3 linked regions of the Homo sapiens genome follow. The protein of the gene in region 2 interacts with the protein of the main gene of each other region in a pairwise test. Each region holds a gene or a part of one and is shown on either strand. Other genes may lie near its edges.

What was found.
Region 1: the proteins of LPL (region 2) and PSMD9 interact in binary tests that used the Homo sapiens proteins (3 or more experiments, as listed by UniProt).
Region 3: the proteins of LPL (region 2) and SNX12 interact in binary tests that used the Homo sapiens proteins (3 or more experiments, as listed by UniProt).

The regions. Positions count from the first base shown.
Region 1 is NC_000012.12:121,898,777-121,905,808, reverse strand, and holds part of PSMD9 (26S proteasome non-ATPase regulatory subunit 9), read right to left. Parts: intron 6,176-7,032; coding exon 5,964-6,175; intron 2,804-5,963; coding exon 2,702-2,803; intron 1-2,701. UniProt on the Homo sapiens protein: Acts as a chaperone during the assembly of the 26S proteasome, specifically of the base subcomplex of the PA700/19S regulatory complex (RC).
Region 2 is NC_000008.11:19,963,238-19,967,776, forward strand, and holds the end of LPL (lipoprotein lipase precursor), read left to right. Parts: intron 1-2,072; coding exon 2,073-2,073; 3' UTR 2,074-4,022; downstream 4,023-4,539. UniProt on the Homo sapiens protein: Key enzyme in triglyceride metabolism.
Region 3 is NC_000023.11:71,065,316-71,072,853, forward strand, and holds the start of SNX12 (sorting nexin-12), read right to left. Parts: upstream 3,020-7,538; 5' UTR 2,992-3,019; coding exon 2,827-2,991; intron 1,753-2,826; exon of another isoform or gene 1,691-1,752; intron 1-1,690. UniProt on the Homo sapiens protein: May be involved in several stages of intracellular trafficking.

The sequences.
Region 1 (7,032 bases), on a different chromosome or scaffold from region 2:
TGTAATCCCAGAACTTTGGGAGGCTGAGGTGGGTGGATCACCTGAGGTTAGGAGTTTGAGACCAGCCTGGCCAACATGCTGAAACCCTGTCTCTACTAAAAATACAAAAAAAAATTAGCTGGGCGTGGTGGTGGGCACCTATAATCCCAGCTACTTGGGAGACTGAGGCTGGAGAATCGCTTGAACCTGGGAGGCAGAGGTTGCAGTGAGCCGAGATCGTGCCACTGCACTCCAGACTGGGCAAAAGAGCAAAACTCCATCTTAAAGAAAAAAAAAAGAAAACTCGGCTGGGTGTGGTGGCTCACACCTGTAATCCCAGCACTTTGGGAGGCCAAGGCAGGTGGATCACGAGGTCAGGAGATCGAGACCATCCTGGCTAACACAGTGAAACCCCATCTCTACTAAAAATACAAAAAAATTAGCTGGGCATGGTGGCACATGCCTGTAGTCCCAGCTACTCGGGAGGCTGAGGCAGGAGAATGGCGTGAACCTGGGAGGCAGAGCTTGCAGTAGCCCCCCCGAGACTGCACCACTGCACTCCAGCCTGGGCGACAGAGCAAGACTCCATCTAAAAAAAAAAAAAGAAAAGAAAAAGAAGAAAACTCATGGGACTGTACACTGAAAAAGGTGGATCTGGTGCAGGTAAATTACACCTTAATAAAATAAAATCAACTGGCAGCTCTGTGTGCTGGTATATGAGCAGTCTTTCTGAAGGACATGTGGCTGGAAAGTGGCTGCCTCAGGAGGAGAAGTGATGAAAATGTACAATTGTGATGGCTGCATAATTCTGTGACTACACTAAAAACCACTTTAAATGGGTGAACTGTGTAGTATGTGCATTAAATCTCAATAAAACTGTTGTAAAAATAATAAAAATAGACCAGGCGCAGTGGCTCACATCTGTAGTCCCAGCACTTTGGGAGGCCAGTTTGAGACCAGCCTGGCCAACATAGCGAAACCCCATCTCTACTAAAAATACAAAAATTAGCCAGGCATGGTGGTGGGCGCCTGTAATCCCAGCTACTCAGGAGGCTGAGGCAGGAGAATCACTTGAACCTGGGAGGCGGAGGTTGCAGTGAGCCAAGATCGCACCACTGCACTCCAGCCTGGGTGACAGAGCGAGACTCCATCTCAAATAATAATAATAATAATAATAATAATAATAATAAATTTCAGATGGACTAAAGGAAAAACAGAAATAAAACAATAAAAGAATTAAAAGAATTTCTTTTTTTGAGACAGAGTCTTGCTCTGTCGCCTAGGCTGGAGTGCAATGGCGCGATCTCGGCTCACTGCAAGCTCTGCCTCCTGGGTTCAAGCGATTCTCCTTCCTCAGTCTCCCAAGTAACTGGGACTACAAGTGTGTGCCACCACACCCGGCTAATTTTTTGTATTTTTAGTAGAGACGGGGTTTCACCGTGTTAGCCAGGATGGTCTCCAACTCCTGACTTCGTGATCCACCCACCTCGCCCTCCTAAAGTGCTGGGATTACAGGAGTGAGCCACCACGCCCAGCCAAGAATTTCTTAATTAAAAAAAAAAAAAAGAATTTCTTTAAATGGACACAAAATGCAAGAGCCATAAGCAAAAAAACTGATAAATTTCACAAAATCATCATTTTAAACGTCCATACAAGTTACAGATTTGATGACAGTATCAGTGCAGAAACGATGGCCTGACCACTAGCAGGGGCATAGGCAACTGCCAGCCATCTCCTGACCTGACCTGGCCTGGCCTGCACTGATGGGTTACAAGTAGATGAACCGTGCAGCTAAGCAGGAGTCAAAAAATCCACAACTGTTGGGTTAACTGGAGACTTCATTTGGGAACCAAAAACTTTAGTTAATAATTTTCCTGGGCTTTGCCACAGTATCACTCCTGAAAAGTGTGGATCTTTGCTACAAAACAACAACAAAAATTCCAGCCTGGACAACATAGCAAGACCCCGCCTCCACAAAATATAAAAAAATTAGCCGTGAGGTAGTTATGATAGCACCACCACACTCTAGCCTGGGTGACACAGCATGACCCTGTCTTAAAAAAAAAAAAAAAAAAAAGAAAAGATCTCTAAGAAACCTTGTTAAATGAAAACAGAGACAGGGCAGAGGAGAGGGGAATTTGGGTTAGGGTAGCCAGGAAAGGCCCCCTGCGAGCATGTCACCAGTGTAAAACAGAAGGAGGATGAAGAGGAAGAGCATTCTAAACAGAAGGAATAGCAGGTGCCAAGTCCTTGAATGGGGCTGTGCTGAGCAACACCATGAAGGCAGCAGTCCAGGGCCTCAGCAACACTTCCAGTAACTCCAGGGCTATAGACCAGAGGCCGAGTGCTATGACCTGAATGTCTGTGGCCCCCTGAAATTCATATGTTGAAATCCTAACCACCAATGTGATGGTATTAGGGGTGGGGCCTCTGCAAGGTGATTAGGTCATGAGGGGTGGCGCCCCCACTGGGATTAGTGCCCTTATACAAGAGCTCCCAGGGTTCCTCCCCTTTCTGCCATGTGAGGACACAGCAAGAAGGCACCACCTAGGAGTTAGGAAGCAAGCCCTCCCCAGACACCAAATTGGCTGGTGCCTGGATCTTGGACTTCCCTGCCTCCAGAGCTGTGAAAAATGAACTTCTGTTGTTTGTAAGCCACGCAGTCTATGGCATACTGTTAGAAAAACCCAAACAGACCGAGACACCAGGTAGCCCCACTCACCCCCTCACTGTGCTGCACCACACTGCCAATGTTATGCAGTGACTGGAAGTTCTGGGTGTTCACAGAGCCGAACTCCACAATCTCATCATCCACTTGCAGACCCTGGAGAGGGAAGGAAAAATGGAAAATCAGGCTAGAGGTTCAGTGTGCTCCTGGTGGTCTCTAACCTTCAATACCCAATTTAATGCCAAGGTCACGAGCTTGTTTTCTACAGGGTAGGCTCAGAACAAAGAGGTCAGGGATGTAGACACCTCATGCAGGAAGGGGCAGTGGGTAACGGGGCCACCTCCTCCTGGGGTTCCTTTGAGGGCAGCTCTAGTAAAGATGACCAGGTCTGCCCAATGTCTGAGAGCTGGCAGTTACCAGACACTGTGAAGGCCTTGAGGAGCATGGGAAAGGCCAAATGCTGCTCTCTGCGGTCCTAACCCAGGTTCAAGGGTAAGAGAAGGCAAGCCAGGCTGGGCCCATTTTATTCAGTGATCAACATTTAGACAAGACACTTGCCCTAGAAGCCCCCAGACAAGCAGCCACAGGCACAGGGCGCATCCAAGACTAGAGTGACGCTCTTGTTCTAGGTCCTAAGAAGACAGACCACCACTCATTCACCCCTGTAACAAGTATTTGTTGTGGGCCAACTGGCACTGGGTTAGATGCAGTAGATGGGGTAGTGAATGATAGGGAGCTTCTGTGTAACTTACAGACTTGTGACCATTAAAGAAGACTGGTAGGACCAGGGTTTAGGACCCCATTCCACCTGGCAGGAACTATGTGTCCTGACCAGGGTTTAGGACCCCATTCCACCTGGCAGGAACTATGTGTCCTGACCAGGGTTTAGGACCCCATTCCACCTGGCAGGAACTATGTGTCCTGACATAAGTTACTTCAGGTCTGCAAGGCTTTTCCTCGAGGATGAAATGAGTAAAGATTAGGACCTATCCCAGAAGTGGCTGTGGAATTAAATTTAACTACATCTCCACAAAAAAACTGTACAAGAATGTTCGCAGCAACATGCTTCGTAATAGCCAAAAAGTGGTAACAATTCAAATGTCCATTAACTGACAAATGGATAAATAAAATATGATATATCCAGGCAGTGGAATATTATTTGGCCATAAAAAGGAATGAAGGGCCAGGCACAGTGGCTCACGCCTGTAATCCCAGCACTTTGGGAGGCTGAGGCGGGCGGATCACGAGGTCAGGAGATCGAGACCACCCTGGCTAACAAAGTGAAACCCTGTCTCTACTAAAAATACAAAAAATAAAAATTAGCTGGACGTGATGGCAGGCGCCTGTAGTCCCAGCTACTCGGGAGGATGAGGCAGGAGAATGGCGTGAACCTGGGAGGCGGAGCTTGCAGTGAGCCGAGATCGTGCCACTGCACTCCAGCCTGGGCGACAGAGCGAGACTCCGTCTCAAAAAAAAAAAAAAAAAAAAAAAAAAAGAAGGAATGAAGGGCCAGGCATGACAGCTCATGCCTGTAATTCTAGCACTTTGGGAGGCCGAGGAAGAAGGATCGCTTGAGGCCAGGAGTTCAAGACCAGCCTGGGCAACATAGTGAGAACCCATCTCTAAAAAAAAAAGGAAATAAAAAATTAACCAGGCATGGTTACATGTGCCTACAGTCCTAGCTGCTTGGGAGGCTGAGACAGGAGGATCACTTGACTCTGCGAGTTTGAGGTTGCAGTGAGCTATGATGGCACCATGGCACTGAAGTCTGGGTGAGAGAGTGAGACCCTGTCTGTAAACAAATGAAGCACTGATCCATGCTCAATACAGATGACTTGAAAATTTGCTAAGTGAAAGAAGCCAGTCATAAAAGGTCACATATTATATGATTCAACTTATAGGAAATATCCAGAATAGACAAATACATAGAGACAGAAAGTAGATAACTGGGTGCGGGGAGCTGGGGGATTGGGAAGTGATGGCAAATCACTACAGAGTTTCTTTACAAGACAATGACAATGTTCTGAAATTGATTATGGCTGGGCATGGTGGCTCATGCCTATAATCCCAGCATTTTGGGAGGCCAAGGTGGTAGAATCACTTGAGCCCAGGAGATGGAGACCAACCTACGCAACAGAGCGAAACCCCATCTCCTTTTTTTTTTTTTTTTTTTTTTAGACAGAGTCTCACTCTGTCGCCCAGGCTCTGGAGTGTAGTGGCACGATCTCCGCTCACTGCAACCTCCACCTCCTGGGTTCAGGCGATTCTCCTGCCTCAGCCTCCCGAGTAGCTGGGATTACAGGCACATGTCACCACACCCGGCTAATGTTTGTATTTTTAGTAGAGATGGGGTTTCGCCATGTTGGCCAGGCTGGTCTTGAACTCCTGACATAAGGTGATCGCCCACCTAAGCCTCCCAAAGTGCTGGGATTACAGGCGTGAGCCACTGCACCTGGCTGCAAATTTTTTAAATAGAAAGAAAATTGATTGTGGTAATGCATGGCTCTGTGAATACACCAAAAGACACTAAACTGTATACGGACTTTAAATGGGTAAATTTTTTTTTTTTTTTTGAGACGGAGTCTCACTCTGTTGCCCAGGCTGGAGTGCAGTGGCATGATTTTCGTATTTTTAGTAGAGACGGGGTTTCGCCATGTTGGCCAGGTTGGTCTCGAACTCCTGACCTCAAGTGATCCACTGGCCTCGGCCTCCCAACATGCTGGGATTACAGGCGTGAGCCAATGCTCCCGGTCAAAAAAAAATTTTTTTTAAGACAAGGTCTCACTCTGTCACCCAGGCTGGAGTGCAGTGGCACAGTCACAGCTCACTGCAACTTCGACTTCCTGAGCCCAAGTGATCCTCCCATCTCAGCTTTCCAAGTCGCCTCAGCCTTCTCAAGTGCTGGGATTACACGCATGAGCCACTGTGCCCAGCCTAATGTTTTTTTTAAGACACCACATAAGATGCATAACTCATTTGGCAAGATGCCATTCTCATTTTCATCATTCAGTGCCCAGCTAAAATGAGCCCCAAGAAGAGATCCTCTCCCTCTCTTGGGACATTTATCATCTTCTGTCACTGGGAAGAGGTCACTCCCCCACCAATGTAGTGGGCAGCCGGGGCTGACCCCTCTCTAAAACTCTGCCCCCAGCACAGGGCTGGATACACGACAGGCCTCAGTCAGTGTTTGTTAAATGAGTAACTGAACTCAGCACCGCAGCACGGAGAGAACTAGTCTGTCTTTCCACATCCCCGAAGGCTACCTGACCCACCGTGTCCCCTGGGCATGGACTTGAGTGGCCAACCCCTGGATTACCGCGATGCTGGCTGGGGAGCCGGGGCTGATGCTGTTCACTTTGGCGAAGGCCCGTGGAGGGCCCTGGCTCTCACTCTGACCCAGTTTGCGGCTCATGGCCTCTTTGTGGGCCTCAGCCATGTCCCGGGCCTGCTTCTCCTTGTCGCGAGCGTGCAGCTGGTGCAGGGCCTCCTCCACCTGCTTCATCACTGCCTTGTGATCATTCTGCAGGCCTGGGATGAGAACCACACATCAGGGGCCAAGGAAGACAGTGGAGGACACAAGACTCCTACATTTATTCACTGAAGAGTTAACAAGTGCTTATTACATGCCAGATGTGGAGCTAGAGGTGAGAAGGAGTCTCTGACCAAGACAGAGGACATTCCCTCATGGAGCATTCAGTCCTGCAAGGAGCAGCTCCAGAATAAGTAATTACAATAACATCTGATGACTGCAGGGAGGCCTGGCCAGCAGCAAAGTCTGCCCTCGCTAGTCTAGGATATGAGGGAAGGCTTCCTGAAGGCAGTGCTGTCTCGGGTGAGCCCTGAGAGGTGAGCAGAAGGAAGGTAACAACCAGCTGAATCCACAGCCATGAACTCAAAGGCATATGTATGAGGGGCCAGCGCTGTGATCATGTGAATGAATGACTCAGGCTGGGTGTAATCAAGATTTCACTTTTCTCTGAAATCCTCTAGAAGGAAAAATGCTGCATAAGCCGGGCACAGAGGCTCACGCCTGTAATCCCAGCACTGTGGGAGGCCGAGGCAGGCAGATCACGAGGTCAAGAGATCGCGACCACCTTGCCAACATGGTGAAACCCCGTCTCTACTAAAAAATACAAAAATTAGGCCGAGCGTGGTGGCTCAGGCCTGTAATCCCAGAACTTTGGGAAGTCAAGGTGGCCGGATCACGAGGTCAGGAGATGGAGACCATCCTGGCTAACACGGTGAAACCCCGTCTCTACTAAAAATACAAAAATTAGCCGGGCATGATGGCAGGCGCCTGTAGTCCCAGCTACTCGGGAGGCTGAGGCAGGAGATTGGCGTGAACCAGGGAGGCGGAGATTGCAGTGAGCCGAGATCGCGCCACT
Region 2 (4,539 bases):
CCAGCCTGGCCAACGTGGCGAAACCACCTCTCTACTAAAAATATAAAAATTAGCTGGGTGTGGCGGCACATGCCTGTAATCCCAGCTACTCGGCAGGCTGAGGCGGGAGAATTGCTTGAACCGGGGAGGCAGAGGTTGCAGTGAGATGAGATCGCGCCATTATATTCCAGCCTGGGCAACAGAGAAAGACTCCATCTCAAAAAAAAAAAAAACATGCCTATTAGGAAAAGTATATTAAAGACCCTATGTGTAACATCTTTAATGTTTTTAAATTCTACTTTATAATAGATTTTATACATGTTTACTATAAATAGATTAGGAAAAATAAGCAAAAATAAAATAAAATCACTGTGACCATATCACTCAGAGACAACCCCAATTAACGTTTTTATTTATATTCTTTCGGACTTTATATATACATAATATTTATATGTTTTTCGTCCTTTACAAAAATAGAATTATGGTGTATATACTCTGAATGACTAGATGAGAACATCTGGATCAAAAGCATTAATGTAAGAGCATTCAGGATAAACTCAAAATGGAGAATAGTTAGTGGTATTGAGCCAGGCAAAATAACGCAATTCTTATCTAACTGGAGACTTTTCTTCTAAGAGGTTATTACGTTGTTTTTCCTCATCACAAATCTGAGGCAATATCATACTTTCTTCAGTTCTTAGAAAGAGACTTTTAGATGAAGTTTTTTTTGTTTGTTTTGGTTTTTTTTTTCTTGAGATGGAGTTTTGCTCTTGCTGCCCAGGCTGGAGTGTAGTGGCTCGATCTCAGCTCACTGCAACCTCCACCTCCTGGGTTCAAGCAATTCTCCTGCCTCAGCCTCCCAAGTAGCTGGGATTACACGTGTCCGCCACCACACCTGGCTAATTTCGTATTTTTAGTAGAGAAAGGGTTTCACCATGTTGGTCAGGCTGGTCTTGAACTCCTAACCTCAGGTTATCCACCTGCCTCGGCCTCCCAAAGTGCTGGGATTATAGGTGTGAGTCACCACACCCGGCCCTAGATGCAGTTTTATACATGCATTTGTATTACACATAAATAGCATGCATATTCTGCCAGAGCATCTACAACTTTAAATCTACATGTGAATGTGAAAATAAAACCTCATTAAATTAGTAAATAACTCTAGCTGCTTGTAAAGCACGTCCAGTCGTATTTTTTATATGTTACAAGACTTTATCTGAGAAAGCCTAATGAAGCATTCCTTGTCTGATTATAGGATTACTGACAGAACAGTTATTTAGACAGAGAATGTTCAGATGCGTTTTATTTTTATTTTTTACTTTTATTTATTTTTGAGACAGTCTCGTTCTGTTGCCCAGGCTAGAATGTGGTGGCGTGATCTCGGCTCAATGCAACTCTGCCTCCCGGGTTCAAGTGATTCTTGTGCCTCAGCCTGACAAGTAGCTGGGATTATAGGTGCCCGTTACCATGCCCAGCTAATTTTTCTGTTTTTAGTAGAGACGGAGTTTCACCATATTGGCCAGGCTGGTCATTGAACTCCTAACCTCAGGTGATGTGCCTGTCTCAGCCTCCCAATGTGCTGGGATTACAGGCATGAGCCACAGCACCCAGCCAGATGCATTTTTAAAAACGTACCTGAACTTTATCTAGGAGGTAATTATAAATTAGACTAATAATCTTCTACAGTTTCTTTCTTCTGTGATTAAAATCAATCAAATCAAAGATTCTCTTTCTCACACCTTCTGCTAACTCCTCAGAAACCTCATATCACAAGAAATGAAATGGAACAGGCCTTTCGTTTGATACATTTTAGAATAAGAAATCCTCTAAATTTAGAAGTCATTTGGCCCAGTCCTCCAAAAATGATGCACCTTATTGGGACGGGGCTAAATAGTTGCTCCAGTGTCTTCCATTCCTACAAACCTGCCATTCTCTGATCCATTATACACATCTCCCCTGGGTTTATTCTCACAACCTTTGTTCTGAAATTCCATTTGAAGGCTTTTTCCATCCTAAAACCAGTGGGGGACAGGCGGGAATTGTAAAACACTCAGAAGATAATAAATTGCCCTTTTTCCTGTGCTTTTTCTCAGAAACTGGGCGAATCTACAGAACAAAGAACGGCATGTGAATTCTGTGAAGAATGAAGTGGAGGAAGTAACTTTTACAAAACATACCCAGTGTTTGGGGTGTTTCAAAAGTGGATTTTCCTGAATATTAATCCCAGCCCTACCCTTGTTAGTTATTTTAGGAGACAGTCTCAAGCACTAAAAAGTGGCTAATTCAATTTATGGGGTATAGTGGCCAAATAGCACATCCTCCAACGTTAAAAGACAGTGGATCATGAAAAGTGCTGTTTTGTCCTTTGAGAAAGAAATAATTGTTTGAGCGCAGAGTAAAATAAGGCTCCTTCATGTGGCGTATTGGGCCATAGCCTATAATTGGTTAGAACCTCCTATTTTAATTGGAATTCTGGATCTTTCGGACTGAGGCCTTCTCAAACTTTACTCTAAGTCTCCAAGAATACAGAAAATGCTTTTCCGCGGCACGAATCAGACTCATCTACACAGCAGTATGAATGATGTTTTAGAATGATTCCCTCTTGCTATTGGAATGTGGTCCAGACGTCAACCAGGAACATGTAACTTGGAGAGGGACGAAGAAAGGGTCTGATAAACACAGAGGTTTTAAACAGTCCCTACCATTGGCCTGCATCATGACAAAGTTACAAATTCAAGGAGATATAAAATCTAGATCAATTAATTCTTAATAGGCTTTATCGTTTATTGCTTAATCCCTCTCTCCCCCTTCTTTTTTGTCTCAAGATTATATTATAATAATGTTCTCTGGGTAGGTGTTGAAAATGAGCCTGTAATCCTCAGCTGACACATAATTTGAATGGTGCAGAAAAAAAAAAAGAAACCGTAATTTTATTATTAGATTCTCCAAATGATTTTCATCAATTTAAAATCATTCAATATCTGACAGTTACTCTTCAGTTTTAGGCTTACCTTGGTCATGCTTCAGTTGTACTTCCAGTGCGTCTCTTTTGTTCCTGGCTTTGACATGAAAAGATAGGTTTGAGTTCAAATTTTGCATTGTGTGAGCTTCTACAGATTTTAGACAAGGACCGTTTTTACTAAGTAAAAGGGTGGAGAGGTTCCTGGGGTGGATTCCTAAGCAGTGCTTGTAAACCATCGCGTGCAATGAGCCAGATGGAGTACCATGAGGGTTGCTATTTGTTGTTTTTAACAACTAATCAAGAGTGAGTGAACAACTATTTATAAACTAGATCTCCTATTTTTCAGAATGCTCTTCTACGTATAAATATGAAATGATAAAGATGTCAAATATCTCAGAGGCTATAGCTGGGAACCCGACTGTGAAAGTATGTGATATCTGAACACATACTAGAAAGCTCTGCATGTGTGTTGTCCTTCAGCATAATTCGGAAGGGAAAACAGTCGATCAAGGGATGTATTGGAACATGTCGGAGTAGAAATTGTTCCTGATGTGCCAGAACTTCGACCCTTTCTCTGAGAGAGATGATCGTGCCTATAAATAGTAGGACCAATGTTGTGATTAACATCATCAGGCTTGGAATGAATTCTCTCTAAAAATAAAATGATGTATGATTTGTTGTTGGCATCCCCTTTATTAATTCATTAAATTTCTGGATTTGGGTTGTGACCCAGGGTGCATTAACTTAAAAGATTCACTAAAGCAGCACATAGCACTGGGAACTCTGGCTCCGAAAAACTTTGTTATATATATCAAGGATGTTCTGGCTTTACATTTTATTTATTAGCTGTAAATACATGTGTGGATGTGTAAATGGAGCTTGTACATATTGGAAAGGTCATTGTGGCTATCTGCATTTATAAATGTGTGGTGCTAACTGTATGTGTCTTTATCAGTGATGGTCTCACAGAGCCAACTCACTCTTATGAAATGGGCTTTAACAAAACAAGAAAGAAACGTACTTAACTGTGTGAAGAAATGGAATCAGCTTTTAATAAAATTGACAACATTTTATTACCACACTAAGTCATTATTTTGTATCATTTTTAAAGTAAATTTATTCTTAGGTCAGATTCACTCAGCATATTTTGACTAAGTAACCACTGTACTTAGTAAACCGAAGAGCTTCTGAGAATTATAGTGTACCTTATAGATATTTTTAACATTTATATTTGTATAAAGCTAAAGAAAGCCTTACATATCCTTTAAACTGACTATAGAAGAAAATGATACAGAATTTTGCCTGCATAAAGTACACAGGACTATTCTTGCCTACAATATGCTTTTTCACAAGCAAAATGTTAGACTAATATAAGGCATCTTTGGCCATTTTATAGTGTACATCATCTCTATTTCTGAGGCCTCATTGTTAGCTGTAACGCAAGTAGCATTTGTGCAATAAAATGAACTATTTGGGATGGGAGGGTACATTTTTTAGAACTTTGCTTTGGGTTGCCTTGATAATTAATAGCATATAGTCCATTTATGCAGCTAAGTAGGGATTGCTTCTTAGTACAGTCAGGAAGAATTTAGCCCAGA
Region 3 (7,538 bases), on a different chromosome or scaffold from region 2:
CCACTGCCCTCCAGCCTGGGTGACAGAGCAAGACTTTGTCTCAAAAAAAAAAAAAAAAAAAGAATAAACAAGGCCAGGCGTGGTGGCTCACACCTGTAATCCCAGCACTTTGGGAGACTGAGGTGGATGGATCACTTGAGGTCAGGAGTTCGAGACCAGCCTGGCCAACATGGCGAAACCCCATCTCTACTAAAAATACAAAAATTAGGCCGGGCATGGTGGCTAACACCTATAATCCCAGCACTTTGGGAGGCCGAGGCAAGCGGATCACTTGAGGTCAGGAGTTCGAGACCAGCCTGGCCAACATGGCGAAACCTGTCTCTACTAAAAATACAAAAATTAGCCAGGCGTGGTGGTACATGCCTGTAATCCCAGCTACTTGGGAGGCTGAGGCAGAAGAATCACTTGAACCCGGGAGGCAGAGGTTGCAGTGAGCCGAGATCATGCCACTGCACTCCAGCCTGGGCTACAAGAGCAAAACTCTATCTCAAAAAAAAAAAAAAAAATTAGCCAGGTGTGGTGGCACCATGCCTTATGCCTGTAGTCCCAGCTACTCCAGAGGCTGAGGCAGGAGAATCGCCTGAACCTGGGAGGCATAGGTTGCAGTGAGCTGAGATCATGCCACTGCACTCCAGCCTGGGTGACAGAGCGAGACTCTGTCTCGAAAAAAAAAAAAATTGTGGAAGGGACCGATTAAAAGTTTAGTGAGTAGAAAAATTTTGCATGCTAAAGTTTTGCTACTAAGTGTTGTCAAGGAGACAGAAGTGTAGCAGAAAGAATATGGAGTCAGACATATTTGTGTTCAAATTCCAGCCCTGTCAGTTATAGTTACGTGTACTTGGGCAAGTTACTTAAACTGCATTCCTCCTCAGTTTCCCATGTGTAAAACGAAGTTCTGTAAGGATTAACACAAATTAAAACCTAGTTCAGTGCCTGGTACACAGTAGGCACTAGATGAACAGTCCCTGTTGCTATTAGAATACCTGGAGTAGGGCCAGGCGTGGTGGCTCACGCCTCTAATCCCAGCCCTTTGGGAGGCCGAGGCAGGAGGATCACTTGCGGTCAGCAGTTCAAGACCAGCCTGGCCAACATGGCGAAACCCCGTCTCTATTAAAAATACAAAAATTAGCCAGGCATGGTGGCATGTGCCTGTAATCCCAGCTACTCGGGAGGATGAGGCAGGAGAATTGCTTGAACCCAGGAGGCGGAGGTTGCAGCGAGCCGAGATTGCACCATTGCACGGCAGCCTGGGCAATAGAACGAGACTCCATCTCTTAAAAAAAAAAAAAAAAAAAAAAGAATACCCTGAGTAAAGAGCGATTTCATTCAGAATCCCTAAGACTCTTGGGTAATGCATTGAATGTCTCCAAAACCCCACAGCAGACAGCCCTTATGCTGTACTAGTCATGCCCAAGCTCCCTCAGGTAACTAAGTTCTCCAGCACTGACAATTTCCTGCTTTTATCATATTCTGAAGGACCTAAATTCCATTCTCCCCCAAAGACATGATTTCACATAGTTCTTATATAGACAAGTGTTTCTCATGTTTTGCTATTCACTTTTCTTTCTTCAGTTTGGACTTTGCCAAACTTGGAATCTGGAAATCATAATTTCTCAATAAGATTTCAAAGCCCAAGTAGGAGACCACAATTTCTCATTCAATTCACTCCTTCAACAATGAAAGCACATACACTCTTTTAGTTCTTCAATGCTGTTTGAGCAGGATGCTGTCCACAGAGAATATTCTGGCCTTTTAGTCTGAGAAGAAAACATAAGGAAAACTAGAAAATGATTCTCAAACTGTTTTGCCTATAACCACTTCAAGTGGGCAAAAGATCCTGCAAACCAAGTACTCTATCTGCACATTCCATCCTTGCATTATGGGCTAAGCACTAGAGAGTAAAGTCCTCTATCATGCATGCTGGAAGAAGCCACTCCTGGGCAATTCTGAAATGTCATGTATTAAAGTAACTACAGACCAGGGTCAGAATCCAAAAGGGTAATCTAGGACAGAAAGGGCAAAAAGCCATTCATATACAAAGTACCTAAACGAGAGTCAATAAATACTGAAATAAACATTCTGGATACTTCAAATCTAAAGGATCCACATAGAATGAAAGCAGTGACTGACAAGGCACCAATCCCAGGGCCAGGCCAGGTTTCAAGGCGAGACAGCACGTAGTATCTGCGAAAACTTAAGCATAAAACATTTCTCTCCTTCAGATGCTGATCCGACACAAGTTAGGAAAGCGCTCGGTCTCAAGGAGACTCCCTTTCTTATTTCTGCTCCCACAAGCCTACTGTCTGCCTTTTCTGGAATCTACCTTCCCTTTAATTCAAGGCTTTGCTTTACTCCATTATCCCAGGGAGACCTCATTAGAAAGCAGCCGGCCTTCCTGCCCTCCCTCTTCAGACTTCTCACAACCTAGTTTAGTTATGGAGCTCAGCGATATATCGCCTTGGCTTTCCATCCCCCAGCCCTCTTCCATCCTCCCTCCCTTCCTTCAGTCGCTACAGCCGTGATTCCTATCTCCTTGAATTCCTCACTCTAATCTTTTTCCATCCACCCCACCCTATCCAGCCATGCTTCACTTCCTCATGGGTAGCTTTCCTGCATCCCCGTCCGATGTCTCCCTCAGGAGTTTTCTGCATCCTCCGGCCACAACTGAATCGGCAGACCTCGTTCCAAGCCTATTATACCCCTAACCCCCAAATGACCCCTAAGGCGTCTTCCCCGCCGTTAGTTGCCCCCGCGGTAGCCTCCCTCCCCCCTCCCGCTCGCGCCGCCCGGTCCTCCCTCAGCTGTCTCCCTCACCCCGTGACTCACCCGCATGCGAACCTCATAGGTGGTGAAGCGCGCGCGTCCCACGCCCACCGTCTGAGGATTAAAGATGTCGATCTCCAGGAAGTTACTTGGCGGCCCGTAAGCGTCGGTCAGGTCCTGCGGCTTCGAGTTAAGGCGCCGGGTATCAGCTACTGCCGTGTCCGACATCTTTCCGAAGGAGAGCCTGGGACCGGGGAAAGGGGGTGGGGGACAGAGGCCTGAGGCAGGAGCGCGCACGGCCCCTCCCGCTTGCAAAATAACTAGCCAACCCACAGGCGGCGGCGGCGCGCACGCGCGCCCACGCACGCACGCGCACGCCGCACGGGCCTGGGCCCCGGGCTCTGAATAGCGGCCGTGCTGACTGCTGCGCGCCCTGTAGAGTGGAGGCCATATTCAGGCTTCCGGGTGATGTTTGTGGCCACCCGGGAACCTGCATCCCCAATACGCAGTACCCAATACCCTGCCTAGCAGCACAGGCTGGCTCCGCCAATCGCGGCTCCTCAACCCAAGAAATTGTCTCGTACCGTGTATCAATCAACAGTGGGCACTGCCCCGTGAGCCAGGCTCCTACAGTGATAGGCCGAAGCCCAGTGACCTGAATAAGTCCTGGTTTTCCGCGAAAATAGAAGGGTGGTCTATGGAGGGTGGGGTTCCAACAATAGTACTGAGAACCTATAACGTAGCCGTCCCACCTGTGCCACTGATGGTTTCAGTTCACGCCACACACAATGGCGCACTCAGCACTACGTATGGCGCCAGGAAAGCAGCAAGCAACTAGGATGGGGTAAAGAAAGACATTTCTCTCTTACTTTTCAGGAAAATTGGGCATATCTTACTCCTTGTTGCCACACTCCAGGTGTACTCAATCTTACATTTATCAGCAAATTGAGGGTACTTATTTCATACCTTCTATTTCTACTCCGCAGAACTCCATACTTGGCACTGCTCTGAGGTTGCTTGCAACCCATAATGGAGATAGAATAAATGTTTACATGAGAATATCTATAGAAATATTAATATTTATATGACTAATTTACATATGCTCCACATTAAAGGGTAGACTGGGTGATGATTTCAGGTCATCCTTTCTCCACCTTTCCCCTGCCCTCCTCTACTCAAAAAATATTTCCCATATCACTGATGCCTGAAATTCTTTCAACAGAGTATGAGGCCCTACAATTTCACAATTGCTGTTTAATTCAATTTAACCAATATCCACTAAGCAAATACGTGCCAAGCACCATGCTAAACACTAAAATCCTGGAGTTAAATAAGAGTCCCTGCCCTCAAGGAGTTAACATTCTAGCAAGGGAGACAAGTAAACAAAACTAATATAATGCGACAAATACAAAATAAGTAAATGTTCAAAGCAGCACATAGGAAATGTATAACTGGAAAAATTAGGGGAGGTTCCCCTGGAGGAGGAAACATCTGAGTTTAACAGACATGAAAAGACATAAAGGACAAATAGGAGTGGAAATAGGGAAAGGTAATTTCTGGAATAAGAAACAGCATATGCAGGCCGGGCGCGGTGGCTCACACCTGTAATCCCAGCACTTTGGGAGGCCGAGGCAGGCAGATCACTTGAGGTCAAGAGTTCGAGATCAGCCTGGCCAACATGGTGAAACCCTGTCTCTATTAAAAATACAAAAATTAGCTGGGCATGGTGGCACACGCCTGTAATCCCAGCTACTCAGGAGGCTGAGGCAGGAGAATCGCTTGAACCCGGGAGGCAGAGGTTGCAGTGAGCTGAGATCATGCCACTGCACTCCATCCTGGGCAACAGAGCAAGACTCCATCAAAAAAAGAAAGAAAGAAAAGGAAAAGAAAAGAGAGAGAGAGAGAGAGCGAAAGAAAGAAAGAATACACAAAGTCCTTGCGATAAGAAACAGTGGAGCATTTTTAGGCATTTATCGCCAATTCAGACTGTGTGATGGAAGTGTTTAGAAAGGTAGACTGGCTAGGGATGGGCAGACAAAGGATGATCCGCTTATATTAAGTAAAGGATCTCTGACTTCATGATAGGTGATACAAAGCTTTCTGGTAGGTGATAGGGAGTCCCTGAAGGATCCTAAGCAGGAAAAATACATGATCAGATTTATGTTTTAGAAGAATTGTTTTGTAGACAACATGGAAGGTATATTTAAGTTGAATTATGAAGGTATTGACAATAAGACTCCGAATCAAGTGGTGATGGTGACAATGGAGAGGAGGGAAGAGATAGGAAAGAGATTGAAGAAATAAAATAGATACGACTTGTACGTGATTAGATATGGTGGTAGTATAGTGTAGGGCTTAAATGTGTGACCCATGAACTTAGGCTGCCTGGGTTTAAATCCTTGCTTTCTAGCTGTATAACCATGAGCAAATTATACAAACAGTTTTCCTCATCTGTAAAAAATGAGTTCAGTTTAGATAAATATGGGGTGTCTGTAGAACATCCAGGTGGAGATGTCCAGCGAGTAGCTGGAAATACTGGCCTGGAGCTCGAGGGCGAGGTCAGGGTTAGAGAGATAGAGATATGAGAGTCATCAGCATACCATGTAGAAAGAAAAACATGAAGAGGCAAGGACAGAAGATTTGAAAGTTGGTGAGGGCATGCAGTTTTGGTAGGAATGTGAATCGGTACAATCTTTCTGGGAAATAGATTGGCAGTATGTATTTTTTTTTTAAACTTTGACTTGAAGAAACTTGTAATACTGGTTGTCTCTGGAGAGCAGAACTGGAGAAAAGAAGTCACAGACGGCAGGGAGGGTTGTTTTTCATTAACTGTGTTTAAGTATAATGCCTTTGTATTTTTTATTTTTAATGTTATTTACCAAAATCTTTAACTCAAAAGTTTTACTTCCAATAATTTATCCTCAGAAAATAATCAGATAATCACATAAAGATACCAGTGTAAGGTTCTTGTTTTTAAGAGCAAATAATTGTTCATTTTCTGCAATATTTGTGTAGTCTTTTTTTCTAATTTGTGAATTTGCTTATATAACAAGTATTATAAAGGGGTAGTGGATTTTATATTTTACAAGGCTTTTTATCTTAGTCACTTCCATCATAAATTTCACTATCTTGTGTAAATGGCCTAATTTACAGTTCCCCTATCTATCCATTTAAAATAATTTCTTATGCTTGTTGATACAGAATGATGTCCATGAAAAAGTGAAAAAAGCTGGCAAAAAATATTGTAGTATGATATCACTTGTATTAATGTATATTTTATATATAATAATTAATATAAATAATTATAATTATAAATAATATAATGTAATATATAAATAATATAAACATATAATTATATATAATTAAATATAAATAATTATATATTTATATAATTATTATAGTTTATATTATATATAATTATTATATTTATATATTAATTTATATATATATTTATATTTATATATATTATATATAAATATATAATATTTATATATTATATATATAAATATATAATATTTATATATATTATATATAAATATATAATATTTATATATTTATATTTATATATCTATATCATTATATATAATTATTTATATATAAATATATTTATATATAAATATATAATATATAGATATATAAATATATATATAAATATATATTTATATATATAAATAATTATTTATATATAATTTTTAAAGTCTGGAAAGACATGCACCAAAATGTAGCAGCGGTTACCTCTGTGTGGTGGGGTTTCAGTTGGATTTTATATTTTTATAATTTTCTAAAGGATCTGATTTTTTAACAATAAACTTACATTTATTTTTTAACCAGAAAATGTAAAACTATTTCCATTTGGGAAAACCATTAAAGGGCAGGCACAGAAAAGAACAGCTTGTGGGCCGGGCACGGTGGCTCACGCCTGTAATCCCAGTACTTTGGGAGGCCAAGGCGGGCTGATTGCCTGAGTGCAGGAGTTTGCGACCAGCCTGGGCAACACGGTGAAAACCTGTCTCTACTAAAATACGAAAAATTAGACGGGCGAGGTGGCATGTGCCTGTAGTCCCAGCTACTTGGGAGGCCGAGGCAGGAGAATTGCTTGAACCCGGGAGGCGGAGGTTGCAGTGATCCGAGATCGAGCCACTGCACTCCAGCCAGGGCAACAGAGCAAGACTCCATCTTGGGGAAAAAAAAAAAAAAAAGCTCGTGAAGGAGATCAGGAAGGAGTGGTCAGAGAGGTAGGAAGAGAGCCAGAAGACAATAATGATCTGAAGACAACGAATAAAAATGTTTCTCAAAGGAGCAAATAGGTGGTTAATAGTGTTTAATATAGTAGAAAGGTCAAATAAGATAAGCCCTGAGAAATGTCCACTAGATTAAATAATTACTTAAATGAGAACAGTTTCAGTAGAGTCCTGGGAGTAGAATCCAGATCATAGTGAATTGAGAATTGAATCAGAGGTAAAGAAGTGGAAACATTTAGTAGAGAATCTTTTGAGAAACTTGCCTAAGAAAGAAATGTTGTAGCTAGAGAGCCATGCATAGTCAAAGAAGGATTTGTTTTTTAGGATAGGAGAGATTTAAATATGTTTAGCAGCTAGAGGGACCAATTCCATAGAAAGTTAAATATATAGGTGAGTGACAAGATAAGGCTTAAAATCAAATGGCCCTAGGAGAATTGTGCAAGTTAAATTCACAATGAGGTGTAAATAAATGATAAATGATCTTTGAGGGAAAATTTTGATAGGGTGAAAAGAAGAGGACAGTAGAGGGTACTG